Regions from separate parts of the Homo sapiens genome. Here region 2 is linked to region 1. Evidence: fine-mapped expression QTL. A gene starts in region 1. The other region holds a variant in brackets. All regions are shown on one strand. Distances are between the middles of the regions. Region 1 holds the start of ATN1 (atrophin 1). Region 2 overlaps C1RL (complement C1r subcomponent like).

Evidence for each region. PIP is the estimated chance that this variant, and not a neighbour inherited with it, causes the effect. A credible set is the group of variants that fine-mapping cannot tell apart.
Region 2: its variant is the best candidate, but not a certain one, in a credible set for the expression of ATN1 in whole blood (TOPMed, PIP 0.85).

Annotation. Positions count from the first base shown.
Region 1 is chr12:6,926,250-6,929,264 of GRCh38, forward strand. It overlaps ATN1 (atrophin 1), which reads left to right and starts at 1,710. Exons shown (of 10, transcript NM_001940.4): 1 at 1,710-2,135. It overlaps LOC124902868 (a long non-coding RNA gene), which reads right to left and starts at 1,447. Exons shown (of 2, transcript XR_007063194.1): 1 at 1,278-1,447. RefSeq lists an enhancer at 1-294 and silencers at 1,319-1,368, 1,549-1,708.
Region 2 is chr12:7,093,802-7,096,329 of GRCh38, forward strand. It overlaps C1RL (complement C1r subcomponent like), which reads right to left. Exons shown (of 6, transcript NM_016546.4): 6 at 753-2,528. Among named protein-coding and RNA genes, the nearest start is that of C1R, 2.6 kb to the left of the region's middle. The variant T/G (reference allele first, on the strand shown) is at 1,329.

The sequences.
Region 1 (3,015 bases):
GCCCAGTCTTCACCCGACTGCTTCCCTGTGACCCAGGGGATCTTTAGTGATGACTTTCAACAGATTTGAGAAGGAAAATGGAGATGCCACTAGATGGAAGGCCTGAGGATGGTGTCTCACTCCTCCAAGCTGTATCCCTTACCTATCTACCCATGAGCTTGCCAGCAACCTCCCCCCGCTCCCACATCTGTCATTTCCTTTAACTGCCCTCGTTTCCCATCTCCATTTTTTCTTTTTTTTTTTGAGACGGCGTCTCGCTCTGTCTCCCAGGCTGGAGTGCAGTGGCGCGATCTCTGCTTGCTGAAACCTTTGCCTCCCAGGTTCAAGGATTCTCCTGCCTCAGCCTCTGAGTAGCTGGGATTACAGGCATGCGCCACCACACCCGGCTAATTTTTGTATTTTTAGTAGAGACGGGGTTTCGCCATGTTGGCCAGGCTGGTCTTGAACTCCTGACAAGTGACCCACCCGACTCAGCCTCCGAAAGTGCTGAGATTACAGGCGTGAGCCCCCGCACCGGCCCCATCTCCATTTTCTTTTCCCATCCATGATCTTTCCTCTTCCATACTGCCGCCAGCCATAGGCCTTGTTCAGCTTACATTTCCTTCCAATCTTCTTATCCCCCTCTTCCCCATTCTGCCCGCCCAAGTAAACCCTCCTCGGCTCTACTGGGAGCCCCCACCCCCAGGATCCAGCCAGCCCGGTGTCTCCCACCCTTCTTTCCCATCCAGAGCCCTCCTTTCTCACCCAGAACCTATTTTCCCTAGAATTGGCACCTGGGCCCACCTCGTTCATCCCTTCTTAAGGTTCCTCACGCGTTCCCTCCTCTCTCTCCTCACTGACGTTTCCTCTGGACTTCTCTCTCTCCAGCATTCCTTCATCCCCCCACCCCCAATTCTTATATTTATGACTCTTTTGTCAACACTAATCACCCCCAAAAGCTTTACTTTTTCCAGAAGCCCCATCTTTCTATATATGTCATCTTTTCAATTTTTCTCTCTCCTTATGACCCCAAACTTCCATCCCATTCTCTCTGATAATAGCCCCCAAACCCGTCTGGCTCCATCTCTGCCACAGATCCCTCACCCCAAGCTTCTCTCACTTCTCACCAGGCACCCACAAAGCCCCCAGGCAGCTCCATCTTTCCAATCCAATCCCATTATCCCAATCTCTACCCCAGGATCCCCCAAACTCCTCCCACTTCACCTCTGCCACAGACCCGCTCGCCCCCAAACTTCAGCCTCCCCTCATCTGCCCTCACCACCCACAGCCCCTCCTACCTAGCCCTCTCCCGCGCCGGGCCCGCGGGCTCCCCACATTCCGCCACGGCTAGCCCTCCCCGCGCCCCGGCCCCCTCGGCCTCGGCCTCGGCCAACTCGCGCTGCGCCTCCCCCTCTCCGGCTCCCCCTCTCTCCCCCCTCGCGGCTTGCCTCGCGCTCCCTCCCTCGCGTCTCCCTCCTGGCCCCTCTCTCCTCCGTTCCTCCGCGCTCCCTCCTTCTCCCTCTTCCTCCCTTCTCCCATCCCCCTCTCCCAGGCTCCCTCCCTTCGCCGTCCGCTTTCCTGTGCGAGTCGCCGGACGCACCGCCCAGCCCGTCCGCAGCCCCGCGCCGGGTCGGGGCCTCGGGCCGGGCCATTTCGGAGGGACCGCGGCTTCGGGGAGGGGCTAGGAGGGGGGAGAGGGAGCCGACTGCCGGGGAAGGGGCGGGGGCCGCGGGCGAGGCGGCCGAGGGGCCCGGGATCGCGCGGGTGCGGGCTGCGCTAGGCGGGCGCGGGCGGCGGCGGGTCGGAACCGCGCCGAGGGCCGGGCGGGCCGCGGGGCCGGGCGGCGCGGCGGGGGCGGGCGGCGCGGCCCGGGGCATTCCGGGCGGCCAGGGGGAGGCGGCGAGCCCGGGGAGGTGGGGAGCAGAGCGGGGATCGGGGTTTGCTCCGGGGGCCGGCGGGCGATTGGGGCCAGGCGGGGAAAAGGGGGGATGGGGGCCGCCCTCCGGGGGGGTCGGGGCCGCCGCCGCCGTCGTCGCGGCGGCGACTGAGGCCGAGAAGAGGAGAGGGGGGCGGGGGAGCTGCCGCCGCCGCCCCCCAGAGGCGCCGGAGCCCGGAATCCCGCTCGGAGCCAGCCAGCCGTCCCGAGCTACCAGCAGGTAAGGTCTGCGGCCGCCTGGGCCCCGGGCCCGCGGGGTTCTGTCCCGCCCGGGCTCCGGCCTGCGGCTCCCCACCCCCACCCCTCCCAGTTCCCCCTCCTGCCGCCGCCGCCTCCATTTGTTATTTTCCCAATCCCGTCCCCCCACTGCGGGCTCTGCCTGGCCTGAGGGCCGGGGGCTCAGGGGGTGGGGCCCGCCGAGGAGAGTCGGGGGCCAGGGTTTCGGGAGGATCGGGAAGGTGGGGAAGGAGGGAGGGTCTCCGGAGGAGGCCTGTGGGGCCAGAGGGTATCCGGGACCCGCAGACTCAAAAGAGGAGGAACATCGAGGCCGGGGTTGGCGGAGGAAAACGGGGGATGCTGTGAGTGGGGTTCCGGGCGAAGGCAGAATGGATAGGAGAGATGGCAGCGAGGTGGGGCATGAAGCCTCCAGGAAAAAGCTCCAAAGGACCAGAACACGGGTTCCGGAGCCTGGGGTTGGGGGCTTTAGGAATAGACGGGAAGTGGGAAACGGGAAAGGGGTGTGGTAGGTGGAAAGAGGGATTGTGGCTGATGAACCTGGGGGAGACGGAGGCTTGGGCAAAGAGAGGTCCATTTTTGAGAAGAGCCGGAGGTTTTCCAGCGTGGAAGAGGGAAGGCCATGTCTTTGTGACGGTTTTCATTCCCCTACTGCAGGTCACCTCTGACCCTGTTTTCCCTATCCCAGACATAGTTATTTCTTGGAGAGGGCACTGGGGCCCAGTAGTGTGGGTTATCCCAAAACTAGTGAGGAGGAAAACAGGAACACAGAAGGGGGAGTTGGGAAGAAAGGGGTTCTGGGAGGATGGAAATGGAGAATTGAGCAACCTTACAGGCACTCCAGGCAAGTTGCGACCTCCACCCTC
Region 2 (2,528 bases), 170 kb after region 1:
TGTGTCAGAGCTGAGGACTGAACCTAACGGAGGGCTGGTCTGTGATGGGATCAGCATATGATCCACAGCCTTGTTAGATCAGGAAAGACAAAAGATGGGGGAGAAGGAAAAGCACCAGATCAGAGGACGAGAAGGAAGGGGAATCTCGTCTAACAAACTGCACATTAATATCCTAGCAGCAGTTTGTGTGTGTGTGTGTGTGTGCACGCGCGCATGTGCCGTATGTTCATAATGGAGGCAGAGGGAACAGGTAAGGAGGTAAGTCTTAGCTGAAGCTCTTCCGTCCATCCTAGGGATTCTCAGTTCTGCGTTGGCATTGTGCAACACGCTTGGAGAGCGGCAAACCTGGATGTCATTAGCTCAGTCCCAGCCCTGTCTCCACTCTGCCCAACCATTCAAAATAACCTTTACTCACACATTTTTGTTATGTCCTTGACTTTGTTTTGTCCTTGACTCATACCAAGAAGGAAAAAAATGCCATATGAAATGCTGCTGCGTTTGTTTTAAAACAATTATTGAGGATATAGTCGGTTACAGTGTTTGTTCCTTTAAGGATTTGATTCTTGGGAAAAAGATTTCTCTCTTAAAGTAGTGGTAGGTTTTCCTCTGTGGATATGTCTCTATCGCTAGCTCATCTATCTCCATCATCTCTATCTCTTACCTCCCTCTCTCTCTCATTGTCGATATCTCTATCTCTAGACAGAGACAGCGATGGAGATGTAGAGATATAGATCTAGACATACACATATAAATATAGGTATATATATATTTTTTTGCCTTGGCAGGGAGAAACTCATATCATTTTTTGCAATCATAAAAATAAGCAAAATAAAATAAAAACATTTCATGCTCATTAAACAAATTTTAGCCAATAGAGAATAGTGGAAAACCAAACAGCCAAAATCTTATCAATAAAACCACCTCTGTTTAGTATTTTGAGAGAATTATTATTATATTTTTGGCGATGGGGTTTCACTATGTTGCTTAGGCTGGACTTCAACTCCTGGGCTCAAGCGATCCTCTTGCATCAGCCTCCTGAGTGGCTGGGGGTATAAGTGTGCATCATTGCACCTGCCTTTTGGGAATATTTTTAATAATCTTTTGTACTGTATGTGGGTGTAAAAAACAGAAGTAATCACATGTATGTACAACTTTGAATCCTGCCATTTTTTAGAGATAAATTTAACCTTTGACCATATAGCAACTTGACTCTTGATGCTAACAAATTACCTCTCTTCTCTCTTTTATGGTGTTTATTTTCTATTTCCATTGAACAGTTGTATTTTATTTGTGTCTTTCACTGTAAATCACCTCCAATCTTTTTTTTT[T/G]GGGGGGGATGAAGTCTTGGTCTGTCCGCAGGCTGGAGTGCAGTGGCGTGATCTTAGCTCACTGCAACCTCCGCCTCCCAGGTTCAAGTGATTCTCCTGCCTCAGCCTCCCGAGTAGCTGGGACTACAGGCACGTGTCACCACGCCCGGCTAATTTTTGTATTTTTAGTAGAGATGGGGTTTCACCATGTTGGCCAGGATGGGCTGGATCTCCTGACCTCGTGATCCACCCACCTCGGACTCCTAAGGTGTTGGGATTACAGGCGTGAGCCACTGCGCCCGGCCCATCACCTCCAGGTTTTACTAAAAATTAAAGAGTTGGTCCTCTCAGGTGGAGCAGTTCCCCTGATGATAGGGGCACAGGTGGGGTGTCTGCAAGAACTTCAGTCCAGTGCTGGGCTCACCTGGCTTCTGCAGGAGATGGGGCCATTAGGAAAGTGTGAGCTAGAGGATACCATTTTCGCAGAAGCAGGAATTCCCAGGGAGGGAAAATGGTAAGGATGTGGGGGCTGGGAGGGAAAGCGGGTGACACAGCAGGTTAGAGGAGGGTTGAGAAGTATTGCAGCACACTGGGAAGAGCACAGTCTCTGCAGTCACACACCAGCTGTGGGACTTGGGCAAGTCCCTTTATCCCCTGAGCCTCAGTTTCCTCATTTGTCACACATAGATAATAACACATCCTTTGCAAATATGGTATGAGGATTAAGTGAAATAACAGGTGAAGCACCTGGCATATAGAGGACATAAAATAAAAAAGGAGCTGTTTCTATAATTGCATCTTGGAGCTGCAGAATAGCTTGAATATTTGAAGGTCAACTAAAGGGTCTTAGGAATGTTTCAGAAATGCAATGCAATGAAAACCCCTTCCTCCATACTCTAATAGCGGGTGAGTAGCTGACTCTTCCACAGGTGAGTATAAAAGCTGTGTCAACAGATGAAGTAGGGGAAGGCGGTTCTAAGGACATTCAAGGCGAAAGTTGTTGAGATGTACAGGCTTCCCGGGGCCTAGTGCATGAGCACAGGGAGGTAGAGGGTGAGGAGGAGCGGTCTGTGGGACTCTGCTTCCTGTCTGGGATGGGGCGGGCTTGCCGGGTGGGGGTTTCTCTTGCAGTGGCTTGGTGCAACAGTGATGTGAATAGGATTTCCCTGCCTCCCCCAACCCCCCACCCCCAACCCCTACCCCAGTGTTCAGTCCTCACTC